Linked DNA regions of Homo sapiens. The protein of the gene in region 4 interacts with the protein of the main gene of each other region in a pairwise test. Each region holds a gene or a part of one and is shown on either strand. Other genes may lie near its edges.

What was found. Proteins that work in one complex are often made in the same cells at the same time.
Region 1: the proteins of COPG1 (region 4) and SNCA interact in a two-hybrid assay, tested with the Homo sapiens proteins (one large-scale study listed by BioGRID).
Region 2: the proteins of COPG1 (region 4) and SACM1L interact in binary tests that used the Homo sapiens proteins (3 or more experiments, as listed by UniProt).
Region 3: the proteins of COPG1 (region 4) and CFTR interact in binary tests that used the Homo sapiens proteins (3 or more experiments, as listed by UniProt).

What each region holds. Positions count from the first base shown.
Region 1 is NC_000004.12:89,732,662-89,736,161, reverse strand, and holds part of SNCA (alpha-synuclein), read left to right. Parts: intron 1-3,500. UniProt on the Homo sapiens protein: Neuronal protein that plays several roles in synaptic activity such as regulation of synaptic vesicle trafficking and subsequent neurotransmitter release.
Region 2 is NC_000003.12:45,692,396-45,695,895, reverse strand, and holds part of SACM1L (phosphatidylinositol-3-phosphatase SAC1), read right to left. Parts: intron 1-3,500.
Region 3 is NC_000007.14:117,483,025-117,486,524, reverse strand, and holds part of CFTR (cystic fibrosis transmembrane conductance regulator), read right to left. Parts: intron 1-3,500. UniProt on the Homo sapiens protein: Epithelial ion channel that plays an important role in the regulation of epithelial ion and water transport and fluid homeostasis. Mediates the transport of chloride ions across the cell membrane.
Region 4 is NC_000003.12:129,248,278-129,252,405, reverse strand, and holds the start of COPG1 (coatomer subunit gamma-1), read right to left. Parts: upstream 2,801-4,128; 5' UTR 2,697-2,800; coding exon 2,660-2,696; intron 1,725-2,659; coding exon 1,672-1,724; intron 126-1,671; coding exon 45-125; intron 1-44. UniProt on the Homo sapiens protein: The coatomer is a cytosolic protein complex that binds to dilysine motifs and reversibly associates with Golgi non-clathrin-coated vesicles, which further mediate biosynthetic protein transport from the ER, via the Golgi up to the trans Golgi network.

The DNA.
Region 1 (3,500 bases), on a different chromosome or scaffold from region 4:
GAACATGCCAATTTCTATGGCTTCTCATGTGACAGAATATACTTACTAGGATGCAATTAAATACTCCTCAGAGTATGTAAACAATAAATGTAATCATTACATTATTTTTATATTGTTCTTTCTTATGCATAATAGTAAGACTGAAAATATAGTGTTATTTCTGAAATATGCATATTGTTTTGCTTTTGATGATTAAATAACATTGTCCAAAGTTTTAGGTTTTTTGAAATCTTATATTTTTTAACAAAATATCTAGCCTTTCCAAAACAAGACCTCAATAATTCGTTTAAGACCCAGAGTTGTTCCTCTCCACATAGATCTCTTAAAAAGGCAGAGGATTTATGACCTCAAGAGAAATCAGAGTATCCAAAGTTTGCTTTAATTCAATGTTTTAAAAATAAAATTCCTTAGATTTTATCAAAAATTGAGATTAGTTTGATTTTGAATCAGATGCCCTTTGCTCCCCACCCCAAAATGGCATTATGAGCAGACTAGGAATTGATAATAGAAAATTGAACATATGAAATATATCTTTACCTTGCTTTTTAACAAGGTATTCATGTCTATCGCCTTCATTTTTAAGTGCATCAATAAAATACATGGTAATTCTCTTAGTGAAATATACTATCTACACTATGTACACACTCCCCTGTCTGAGGTAGAGAAGTAGAGAATATTCACATTTTTGAAACGTCTATGCTATTTTTATTTAAATACGAGTTCTGGGCTTGATTTCATTTTGGAACACGGGTGTGTGCTTAAGTTGAACCTTTTTTTCCTCTTAAGTCAAAGTTCTTTTTTAGTTTCTTCTTTTATCTTTTTGGCTACTATCTCTCTCCTTCATCCTCCTGGTGTGAGTTGTTGAGTGAAGGTATTAATTCCATTATTTGAGGCTAAGTGACATTGTTCAATAATGCAGCAAAACAATGGTTCTACCCAAAATATCTTCAAGTGTAAAAGCAGTGGGCAAAAGAGAAAGTGCGCTTCTGCTGCTTTGAATGTTTAAGGCTGTGAAAGTTGATCACACAAATTGGGTCATTCTTGTTATACCCAACTAAAACAATCAAGAAGCCTGGGAGGAAAAGCATTCAAGAAACATCACATTGCTCCAAAAGTGTAATTTTCTACAAGTCCGCATGCTGAGGCTGCCTGTTGTAACCTGGGACCAATTTTTTCTGTAACTGCTGAAAAAACTTGCTGCAGCTCTAGGACTAATTTTGCCCACCACTGTCACTCACCAATTGAAGCTTACTAGCTCCCCAGAACCTTTCTAGTGCCAATGAACTTTCTCAAAGAGCAGCGTGTATCATTTCTCTTTTTCAGAACACCTCCAACCTCCTCTTTGTTCTTTGGGTATACCAAAGACCAACCAGCCTTGAATTTCAATTTTTCTTCCCACATAAAAGTTTTAATTTAGAAATGTATCTCTACATTTCTAACTTTGACAAAGCATAGATACCAGATAATTGATGAAACCTTGCTATTTTAACGATCACCATGGATTACTTCCCAGTGTCTTCAGATAACCCTCAACATTTGCCAACATTTGATGGACTTCAAAATGAGCATATCTTTTTTAAAAAAAATTATTCACACTGACAGCAAGTACATTGGTATACTCTATATTAAATTATACCACAGGGTTTACAAACAATTGGTGATGTCGGGCAGTGGTTTCCAAGGAACATACTTAACAAGACACTCACAAGGCCCTACAAACCTGCATTTTTAACAAGGGCCCTAGATGATTCTAGAAGAGTGTGGTTTGGAAAGCAATTTTTGCCTTTATTATGTGTCATTTTAAATATATTTAAAATTAAAGTTATAAGTCATAGAATTGAATAAAGATAATTTCCTTACAGAAAGTATTACTAGGTATCTAAATACAATATGGTTCAAAACAGGAAATTTAAAAAGATTATGTAAATTCTGTAGTTGTATTCCTAAAGACAGTAGCTGAAATTTTTTCCTACTTCTCCTTGTATCACTTCCCTTTTCCTTCACTTTCACTTCCCTGGAATTGTACTTCCCAATAAGCTATTAGCAGTGAAGGAAGCTTCGTCTCATGATCTGTTTTATAGAGCACTTCAGCTGGGACGAGTACGAAATGATAATCAGTTATATCAGCTATTCAACCCTACAGGTTTATTTAAAAAGAACTTGAATAAGCTTTTTAGGGAGAAAGAGGTCAGTCTCAGCCATTTCTGTTTCCTAATATAGCTTTTAAGTCTTTCCTTATTAGCAATGAGGGTCATTCCATTGTAATTTTTTGATAACCATTTTTCTTTCTGTGTGTCAAATGCAGATATAAGATACTGAACTGAGTCTATTTCACTGTTCGTAAAACAATCCCATTTGAAAAAAAAAAGTCTACAGCTATTCCAGGGATAGGGCCTAGTAGAGAGAGAATAAAAGGTATTTTCTTACTATGTCTCTATATCCTACCCTGTAGGTTCTCTTATTAAGCATACAGGCATATACCAAAATCCAGACGTTTTTCTCATTTATTTTATTGCCCTAACATATTCTGGGTTAATATAATATCATAATGAAAATTTGAGAAAAAATTGATTTTTTCAAAAGTGTTTAACATTTGTTATATTGGTAGTTTTTTTTCTTGTTTGTGGTAAAAATAAATAGAAGGTGCACTTCACACCTTCAAGTATGATTATATTTTGAAAACAAGTCATGAATACTCATAAAATGCAAATTTTAATGTTCTTTTTTTGTTACAGCCAAACTATATTAGGCACAGTTGTAAATTGGAGTTGAAATTTAATATTTCTTTATAGATAACAATGTTTTTAGAAATAGGTTTATGAAACAGTAAATATACAGGTATAGGGATAAAATTGTGTCTGATGGTCATATGAAGTGTTTGTTGTTATATTCTCCTTGGAATAGCTGCCAAATATTTTAGTATGCTTAAAATCTACGAATGTGATAGAGTCAACAAATTTAGATCACATATTCAGAAAAACATAGTTAGAGAACTAACTATTGAAATGAGCATACAGCAGTCTTCCTTTATCTACAGGGATACATTCTGAAACCCCCACTAGGACACCTGAAATTGCGGATAGTAGCAAACCCTACATATACTGTTTTTTCCAATGCTTATGTACCTATGAAAAAGTTTAATTTATAAACTAGGCACAGTAAGAGATTAACAACAATAACTAATAACAAAAGAGAACAATTATAATAATATACTGTAATAAAAGTTATGTGGGTATGGTCTCGCTTTCTCTTTCCCTCTCTCTCTGTCTCTAAATATCTTAGTATTTTGGGGTTGCAATTGGTGGTGGGCAACTGAAACCATGGAAAACAAAACCACGGATAAAAGGAGACTACTGTATATACTTTTTAAAACTGATGAAATATTAAACTCATGTTTCTTCTATATCCCACCCATTTCCCCCACCCAAACCTAGATAGATATCTTATTTGATCTGTAAACATTTAATTAATTTGTAAAAGTTAAGAACTTTTTGAAGTAA
Region 2 (3,500 bases), about 84 Mb from region 4:
TCTAGAGAAGTCAAATTTATAGAGACAGAAAGTAGAACGGTGGTTGCCAGGGGCTGGGAGGATACAGAAATGGGGAGTTGTTTAATGGGTACAGAGTTTATTTTTGCAAGATGAAAACGGTTCTGGTGATGGATGGTGATAACGGTTGTACAACATGAATGTGCTTATTGCCCCTGAACTGTATACTTAAAAATGGTTGAGATGGTAAATTTAATGTTTTATTTTACCACAATTTTTAAAAATAATGAAACCACTATTTTGCATAGGAGCCACAGTGATATGTCATAAAACTGTAGCAAGAACATATTCCCTCAAAAATCTTACGTAAAGAATTTGGCTGGGTGCAGTGGCTCATGCCTGTAATCCCAACACTTTGGGAGGCCGAGGCAGGTGGATCACTTGAGGTCAGGAGATCAAGACCAGCCTGGCCAACATGGTGAAACTCTGTCTCTACTAACAATACAAAAATTAGCCGGGCCTGGTGGTGCATGCCTGTAGTCCCAGCTACAAGGGAGGCTGAGGCACAAGAATCACTTGAACCTGGGAGGTGGTGGTTGTGGTGAGCCGAGACTGCGCCACTGCACTCCAGCCTGGGCAACAGAGTGAGACCCCATCTCAAAAAAAAAAAAGAATTAAATCAAGGTCTTAATGATCAAATTTAATACATCTCTGGTTGAAAAGACAGAGGCACAACACTTTACTAGGTTTGGTGAGCAAAAAGAAAACAACTTAGTAAAGAAGGATCCCCTGCACATACTACACTCATAGGCAGAAGGTGCTCCTACCTCCCCCATTCATCCTCCCTTTGGGTATCTCCTCACTGAGCCCTCCCTGGTTGCCTCTCCTATAGCTCAAGTTCATCACAGACTCCCCAGGGGCACAACCCAATTCCAAACCAGTTGGTGTTTCTAGAAAGACTCATTCTAATGCTATCCTCTTTCTCAAAACTCTGTGTTCCCACCTATATCCTATTCCCTGAATGCCCTAAAACCCATTCTCTCAACCAGACTTCTTCACAGGACTAGGTCCAAATTCCACCTAATCTGAAGCTCTAATCCACAGCACAATCTACCAGAGCCCCATATCTTCCAAAGAATTCTCTTCTACCAGCATGTTCTGGTCCTAACTCAGCTATGTATGCCCAGCCCTAAAATATTTCAGAGTGCATAAAAACTACCAGGATAGCTAGTTAAACTTGCAGATTTCCACCGCTCATCCCCAGAGATTTTCACTCAGTAGGCCTAATGTGGGGCCCTGGAATACGCACTTAAAACAAGCATACCAAGTCATTTGATGTAGCCTAGCACTAACCTAGGCTAGCCACGTGAGCCTAGGTAAGCCTGAACTAGCCTGAACTCCCAGCCAACTAATGCTTTGGATACAAACCCCATATTGTCTGTGCTAAAACTCATGAGAATAATCTGAGCTGCCCTACACCCTTCCCTCCACCGGGAGACTTCTGTGAATAATATGAATGTTCATTATATTGAACAGATTATATGTGTCTGTATCACAAGGTAGCTTAGGTTACATCTGTTTTCAAGGTTGGATCATATCTGCCCTGACTGATGACCTCACAGTTATGAGACTCTTTTAAAAATGGCAATTTCCTGAGGAAACAGTACTCTTCAGAGGCATGCTGCAGCCTGATGCAGTAACTAAAGGATTCCCTGCCTTACACCTAGTTTCAACTGACCTTTTAAAAGAAAAAGAAAAAAAAAGAAGAAAAAATGCTTTAAATGTATCCAATAATTTTGCACCTCTAACTTTCCACTGAACCTTTTAGAAAGTTATTATGAGCTTGAGGTCTGAGGGGCCTAAGAAGTGCCCAAACCACATTTGATGTCATTTCCCTGCAAAGGAAATGTGACACCTACGCCGAACTGCCAAGGTATTTTAGCTTATATACAGGGATAGATAAGCTTCTTAAAAATTACATTTCCAGTCTAATTATTTTGCAATTTCAAATTTATCACTGTCTGACATTATCCATGCCTATACAAATGGCTTAAAAAGAAAAATGGAGCCTAACAGGATATTTAGAACTGCCTGGAAGTTTAAAAAGTATGAATTTTAAATTCTGAGCAAATCAATATTCTGTTTTCCACATTAAACATATGGAAATTAATATGGACATGTCAACTATATTTGGTTGTAAGTGACTCATTTCAATACCTGGCATGTCTGAGGACTAATGCGAGAGCAATCTGGTAAGAGAAAAAAAGGTCATATGGATAATGCAATGAAATGGAAAGATCACTGGACTCTGGACCAGCCGTATTCCAAGGCTAGCTCTACCATGGCTTGGCTGTATGATCTGACTTTGTGGCCAAGGGCAATTATGAGACTGTTTTCAACAATGACAGGATACCTATCAACCTATGACCTCACAGAGACACTGGGAAGACAATATACATGAAATGACTTTTAAGCTGTGTTTCTTCAAAACGATACATTCCAAATTACCCTAGACTGTGTTCTTTTTGCAGTGCTAGTACGTGGTCTATACTGGAAAGTTCCTTTCATTTACTCAGTTGATTCACTGAGGAGCTGCTCTGCACAAGGCTCTATGTTAGGTACTGAGGAGGACTAGAGAAGAAAATGTTAAGGTGTAAACTGGTTGGAGAAACAAAGTACAGCCATGTGCCATGTAACAATGCTTTGGTCAACGACAGACTACACATATGATGGTGGTCCTATAAGCTTATAATACCGTATATTTACTGTACCTTTTCTTGTTTATGTATGTATACATACACAAATCTTTACCATTGTGTTGCAACTGCCTACAGTATTCAGTACAGTAACCTGCTGTACAGGTTTGTAGCCTAGGAACAACTGGCTATTCCATATAGCCTAGGTGTGTAGTAGGCTGTACCATCTAGGTTTGTGTAATTATACTCTGATGTTTGTACAAAGAAGTTGCCTAACATATTTCTAACATATTTCTCAGAATGTATCTCTGTCAGTAAGAGTCACATAACGGTGTACATAATGATTTCATTTCTAAGTGACAAAATGAGTGGTTCAAACAGTACTATGGATTGACCATTCTAGCTTTCCATCCTCTTGTCCATGAGAAAGTAAATGCACTGTAAACTGATCCTAAGAGACAGAATACATAAATCATGTAAACATTTGGTGTCTAACCCTGTTACAATAATTTTTCATTTTTGGCTTTAAAAACTGTTACCAGAACTCAGTGAAGGAAAAGACATGGAAAGAAAACATTTCTCAAAGAAGGTACCTATGAGGTACACTAAGTACTTCATCTAAACTCTCTTTGGGCCAGGCATGGTGGCTCATGCCAGTAATTCCAGCACTTTGGGAGGCCAGGGTGCATGGATCACTTAAGACGAGGAGTTCAAGTTTCAGCAACATGGCGAAACTGAAAAACAGAAAAAATCAGCCAGACATGGTGATGTGCACCTGTAGTCCCAGATGCTTTGGGGGCTGAGGTGAGAGGATCACTTGAGCCTGGGAGGCTGAGGCTGCAGTGA
Region 3 (3,500 bases), on a different chromosome or scaffold from region 4:
GAATAACCTCCTTTAGGTGTGAATACAAAAGACACTTCCCCCAGCAAGCCTTCCTTGACCAGCCTTAGACTGGGTTAAGTGCCCCAGTTGAGTACTTCAATGAAGCCCTCGAGAAAGCTGGGTTTCAGATAATTTGTTCCATAAAGGCAGCAACAATTTCCTTCTTGGCCACCTCTACCTTCTTAACGTCTCACATAGAATACAGAATATGAATGAGGTCATCTTCCAGGTTACCCAGAATCATGACCTACAAAGGAAGTACTGCTGTATCTCAGCTCCTTGGAGCAAGCTATGGGAGAGTTTTCTGGCTATATCCAGGCATAGCTTCAGGCCTGAGTAGTCCTAATAATCCTACGGACCTAGCAAAAATCTTCATTTCCTTACCCCATGAGCAAGAAATTAGCAAGCATGCTATCCTACAAAGGCTAAGGCAGAAGGGACACAAGAAAACTTCGATGGAATAATTGTTCTAAGCATTAAAAATCTGCCCACAGTCCCACTTGCTTTGACCCCTTTTTATCAAAATGATGCCAGCACTGCAGGACTGTTGAATGTCATCGATCTACAATAGACACAGGTCTCTAGGGTTGATCACCATGAACTCATTAACATCACAAAAAAATCTTTATTAAATTGTTCCACGGAAGAGTCTTGAAATGGTCTGAATATCATACTAAACAAATTAGAAAAGGCCCTGACATCCAGAGCTTTACAATTTGGAATCATAATTTATGTCAAAAGATAATAATAAGTTAACAGAGCTGCACAGAAAAATAGCAAAGTTGACAAGCCTTGCAACTTGAATACAGCTGTGAAAAACTCTGAAAAAAGATTTTTCAGAGCTCTGTAGGAATGTAATTCTCTACATCAAGCAATCTAAGAGTAAATTAAATTTTTACAAGCTTCTTGCTAAAAGAAGCCTAAGCTCTTTGCTGACACAATGCCCTACAGTAAAGCCGTAAAGCCACTCTGTAATGCTAATTTCACACTGAAACAACTATGTGGTAAATTGATTCTAGAGCTCTGAAGAGAACCAACAGAAATAGCAATGTTTTCCTCCATGATAATGCACTTGACATATTTGTAAATTAATCTTTCTACAAGATCTCCAAACAACTTGATCTTTATCATAGTCTGTTTTCCCCTTTTGACCTCATTGCATCTCAGAGGTTTTTCTCCAGGAAGATGCCCTACACAGATGCCTCAGGATCAAAATTGCCAAAATTGCTGCTGAGTCAGAGATGTTTTTAACGTTTTGACAACCAACACATAACTGCATGCTAAATAGTTAACACCCTTCCTGATGGTTTTGCAATACTATACTTATATTGTAGCTCTATCACACTGAAATTATAGGCTCTTGTGAAATGACACTAGCAATAATAATGCATTTTATAGCAGTACTCACTCAAGGACCTTTAAACAAGTGTTAACATTTATGTATTGAATATTATTACACTAAGTTCCACTCCCTCCCATAACACATAAATGGAAAACTGGAAAACCGTGATTTCCCTAGTGTAACAGTTAGCTCTGAGGGATATTTTGACTGTCACATCAAACATAAAATATTGATGAAGTAGCTAAGAAAAATAGATTCCACTTCTCTCTTTAGCAAGGAATTAAATATTAAAACTACACTATTCCTTATAAGTATATAAGAATATTACTTGAATCAAGTGATTAATAATTTAACTAGCATATAAAAAACTATAGGAATAAACTTCAAAACAAAGGAGAACTTTTTAAAATTTGCAAAATTAAAAGAAACAATTATATAATTATATATACAAAGATATTTTACATATACAAAGATATTTTATATATAAATAAATGTAATTATAATTTTTGTCATATATCAGGTACAGGAGGTACTTTTAGAACTCTGAGAGTTAAGCTAATCAAAATTAATACAAAATTAACACAGATTCCCAGCTGAAAAATCTCAACTGTGTAATAACAAAACATGGTCAGCAAAAGGATAAATAGAAAAGACTATTGAGGGACTGGTGTAGAAAGTCAACATTTGTTAGTGTTCAGACAACATTGTTCAAGACAGAAGGGCTCCTATCCCAGAGGTGGGCCCCTCCAATTCCTATAGGATGTAAAGCCAAGAGAGAATATGGAAACCCTGGGCTGTCCTCATTGATGGCATTTGCCCATGGACTGACTAAATGGAGTCATGGTAATCGGGAATGCTTGGCAGTTGTATATCACAATATAATTGTTCAACACATATTGGCCTTTGTTTTATGCATCTATTTTATTTTGATTTGGATAACCTAAGGTTTTTCTGATAGACAAACCTGAGATAATGTGTATGTATTGATCAGACCTAGACTAAACCCTTGTTTGGGTAGCCAACTGGTCTTCCTTGGCAACACTTTTACAAACACCCTCAACAAACTGCAAAAATATTTATGGCTTAGCCATAATTTTAGCTTTCCTCACAAATTGCAAACATGTAAATAAAATGTAAATACAAAATCATCATGATGAATTTTTAATAGTGTATCATAATTTATATAACCAAATAAGTGTGGTCCCATTCAAAATGGTCATCTTTATAAATCTTTCATAGTATAATTTTAATTATACTTCCATTGCTCAAAGCACTTATATTTCTCTTCATTAAGCACTGTCTTTAGGCTGACAGGGTGAGGTGGCTTACGCCTGTAATCCCAGCACTTTGGGAGACTGAGTGGGAGGATAACTTGAGGCCAGGAGCTCCAAGAGCAGCCTGGGCAACATAGTGAGATACTGTCTCTATATAACTTAAAAAAAAAAAAAGTTAGCCAGGCATGGTGGTACACACCTGTACACCTGAAGACCCAGCTACTCGTGAGGCAAGATGGAAGGCTCACTTGAGCCCAGGAGGTGGAGGTTGCAGTGAGTTATGATTGTGTCACTGCACTCTAGCCTGGGCAACAGAGTGAGACTCTGTCTTTTAAAAACAAACAAACAAAAGAATTGTCTTTAAAGTTTGCAATGCATTTTTTTTTAATGAAAACACCTAAAATTAGGTAGCACTTGGCTGTTAACAAAGGAAATTATGATGAAAAATCTTTATATTTTCAGAGTGAATTTGATTTTGTGATACAGTCAAAAGTCACTTGGAAGCAAGTCCAAGAGACCAGTCTGGGTAATATAATTTTTAATCTAAAGCAAGCTATGAATATAAAACAATAACAATAAAATAATGTGGCTAATATATACTTATGAGAAGAAATTTATGTATTATTTAGAAAGGCAATTTCATAATAAGAGACCCAAAATTATTTTGATCAAAGGCAAATGTTTAGAATAGGAGTGTGGTTTTTATTAGATAGCTATTTTGAACCACCATACCTATTCTGATATATAAATTCAGGTGTATTTGTTTGTTTTAAAATCTCTCATTACTTTGTGTTTAATAATTACAAAAGTATCTCAAATTATCTTACTGTTAAACTCGAGACTTAGACTATGTGATTCTTTGCTGAATTTCCACCTTAGATCCT
Region 4 (4,128 bases):
TCCCCCAGCACCATTCTCCCTACCCGCAAGCTTCACCCTGTTACCTGGTTTATGAGATAAAGAATCTTGGTGAGGATGTGGGCACATTTCCGAGGGTTGATGGGAGTTTCATTAAATACACGGGCCTAAGAAGAAATGACCAAAGATGTTACCTTCTAGCCTAGTTCATTTCCCTTCAAGTATATTCAATGTCTGAGAAGTCTCAGGGTAAACTGACTTGTCTAAACAGGGCTTTCTGGGTATGCAACAAGCTTATTTTCATAAGGAAAGGGTTTGTTTTTCTTTAATCAACTACTAATTATTCTTAGACTCTCGTGTAAATATTAGTTAGGGATGTGCTAACCTATTGACTAGCAGATACTTAGCAACCATCTGCTAACTGGAAACAGAAACAATGAACGACAACAATAAAGAAAGAAGCGGCTGGACGCAGTAGCTCACACCTGTAATCCTAGCACTTTGGGAGGCCGAGGCGGGTGGATCACCTGAGGTCAGTTCGAGACCAGCCTGGCCAACATGGTGAAACCCCGTCTGTACTAAAAATACAAAACTTAGCCAGGCATGGTGGTGGGCACCTGTAATCTCAGCTACTCGGGAGGCCGAGGCAGGAGAATTGCTGGAACCCAGGAGGCGGAGGTTGCAGCAAGCCAAGATCATGCCATTGCACTCCACCCCAGGCTGACACCAGCAAGTCTCCATCTCAAAAAAAAAAAGAGAAGTGGCCGGGCGCGGTGGCTCACGCTTATAATCCCAGCACTTTGGGAGGCCGAGGCGGGAGGATCAAGAGGTCAGGATTCACACCATTCTCCTGCCTGGCCAACATCGTGAAACCTCATCTCTACTAAAAATATAAAAATCAGCCAGGCATAGTGGCGTGCGCCTGTAGTCCCGGCTACTTGGGAGGCTGAGACAGAAAAATTGCTTGAACCCAGGAGGCAGAGGTTGCAGTTGAGCCGAGATCGTGCCACTGCACTCCAGCCTGAGCAACAGAGTGAGACGCCTTCTAAAAAAAAATACATATATATATATATATAAAAAATATATATAATAAAAATAAACAAGTCATGCAAAATCTCTACCTGCATAATGGCCACAGTCTAGCTTAGGTGATAGTTTTAAACCAGTTTCCTTAGCTTTGGAATTAACTTTAAATAGAGAAATTTTTTAAATGTTTAAATAGAGAGGCCAGGCGCGGTGGCTCAAGCCTGTAATCCCAGCACTTTGGGAGGCCGAGGCGGGTGGATCACGAGGTCAGGAGATCAAGACCGTCCTGGCTAACGCGGTGAAACCCCGTCTCTACTAAAAATACAAAAAATTAGCCGGGTGTGGTGGCGGGCGTCTGTAGTCCCAGCTACTTGGGAGGCTGAGGCAGGAGAATGGCGTGAACCTGGAAGGCGGAGCTTGCAGTGAGCCGAGATCACGCCACTGCACTCCAGCCTGAGCGACAGAGCAAGACTCTGTCTCAGAAAAAAAAAAAAAAAAAAAAAAAAAAAGAAGTAAGCATAACTAACTCTCTCCAGAAACAAAGTTTTCCTGTCTTCCAGAAAACTTCCAGGCACAAGTTTTCTCCCGTGTTGCTCTTTAAAACAACACTTTGAATGTGTTGGTATTTCAGTTGCATTGGTGGTGAATATTTATGATGGAAGCTAGAGGGGAGCAAATGTCACTTGCCTCCTGGAGTACCGCACTCTTCTCAAGGTGCTGGAATGGGTTGGAGCCTCCACCTACGGTCAAGGACAATGGAGAAGGTAGGTTGTGACTCTGAACTTCAAAACTCTCCCAGACATAGGTAAAGGGAAGATGTCCCTTCCTAGGAAATCTAGTAAAGTTCAAACTCCTCAGGAATGGCAATCAAGCCTCTACAATCTGTCTAGGGATCCTACTAGTCTCCTGCAAGCAGGTGGGCTCCACTCTACCCCAAACCACTCACAATCTCCCAGCAGCCCTGGTACAGTCCTGTGCTTCTCATGGTGCCATGTCTTGTGTTCATTTATATAACTTGTAATTAACTAAGTCCCTATGTGCCAGGGACCACCATCTCGTTGTAACTAGTTCCTTCATAGCAGATGACACATTTGCAAATAATTACACGTGTGATTATCTGGTTGATGTCTGCCTCCTCCATCGTGGGTGCAACCATTCTAATATTCCTAGCTCAGGCACTGAGTGTCCCACTTGCTCTGTTGCAGTATCCAGGACACCGTACAGTACCTGGCATACAGTAACTGCTCAATATACTTTGCTGAATAAATGAATGATGGGGTCAGAGTTCCCAGTCACAGGACGCTGGCTCCGCAGGTTACACCCCAGTTTGGCCAGCACCAACGTAGCCCCAGCGAATCCCAAGAGGTTGGACGAAGAAAGTAACAAGAGAACATTCGGCATGGTCCCCTCCTTTGACAGATGGGTAAATTGAGGCCTGGGGGGGGGGGTGTTTGTCGCGCCCAAGGTCACCCAGAAAATTGCAGTCCGAGCTTACAAGAGTGAGACAGCCGCGCATGCTCGGGCTCTCCGAGGCCTGCCACTGACTAGCTGTGGACCCTGGCACAAGCCCCTGCCCCTCACTGGGCCTCAGCCTCCGGGTCAGGACAGAGAACCAGAAGGAAAGCTCGGCGGGTGGGGGTCCGGCCTCCCTCAGACCCAGGCCTGGCCCCCTCACCTGACTCCTCATCCTTCTTGTCGAATTTCTTCAACATAGTGGAGTCGGTGGGGCGCAATGCAGCAACGCAATGCTCGACGGGCGCGGCACGGAGTAGCGGTGCCACAGTGGTTCTACAGGGACCACTTCCGGGCCCCGACTGGCCACGTCGCCCAGCGCTCTGCGCAGGCGCATTCCGCGCTCTGCGCCTGCGCTCTTTCCGGTAGCCACAGCCTCGTCTAATGTTAACCTTAGCTCCGCCGGAGCGGGAGTGGGGAAAGCCAGACGGAGGGGCAAGGGCTAGGTGCAGGGGGGTACTGACTAGCATCCCAACTCTGCTCCCTACGCTTCTTTCCGTATACCAAGGGAGGAGGAGGAGCCCCTGCCTCGTTGCGTTGTGGCGTGAGTCTTTGTGGCTTTCGGGTGTGAGGTTGGTGGCACACACTGGCCCGCAGTAAACACCCAATTGATGTGACCGGTCTATGACTGTTATTGCCACCTTCCGAAGGAGCCTTGCCAGCCACTCACTCCTCGCTTTCAGATTCTTTCCCCTGCCTGATTTCCTCCTCAGCTCGAATCGCCATCTAACACTTTATTTTTACTTTCTGGCTTTTATTTGTTTATTTATTTCTCGTTCTGCTGCCCAGGCTGTGGTGCAGTTGTGCGATCCTGGCTCACTGCAGCCTACAGTTCCTGGGCTCAAGCGATCCTCCCACCTCAGCCTCCCGAGTAGAGCTGGGCGCACCACCCCCGACTAATTTTTTAATTTTTGTAGAGACGAGGTCTCACTATGATGTTGCCCAGTCTGGTCTTGAACTCGTGGCCTCAAGCGATCCTCCTTTCTCGACCTTCCAAAGTGCTGGGATTACAGCGGTGAGCCACTGCACCCGGCCACTTTCTTGCTCTTTTGTTTTTTTTTTTGTTATTTGCTTGTTTGTTTGTCTTTTATTCACTGCAGTGGATAATGTTGGCACATAGTAGTTGCTCAGTGAGTTCTCGTTGAATGAATGCGTGCAATTGCATTTTTAATTTATATCTGCCGGGCCCTATCTCGTCTGCTCCTGATGCAAATTGCCTTGTACATTATCAACCTTAAGAGATCTAACTAAACAGCATAGAACTTCTACGTTATTTTGTAAATACTTTGGATATTTATGGAGTGCCAACTAGATGCGCTGCCTACGCGGGGAGGTGGGGGGAAGGGCGTGGGAAGGAACGGAAAGGGGAAAATGACACATCACCCAGGGTTTATCTTCCTGGGGACCTATGCAGGACACCCTGAGGCTAAGGTAAGCACAGTGCATGCCAGTGAGCCAGATTGCATTGGCAATGGCAAAGTCGTGATGGCCAAGCGCTGCGACACGGCCCCAGCTTGCCTGGGGAGGGGAAGCCCGCAGGCCTGTGGGCAGGAGAAGGAGTGGGCTGTGGAGAGGAGAGGCAGGAGGCTGAGGCAGAGGCCCCAGGTGAAAAGGGTGACCGCAAAGCTGGAG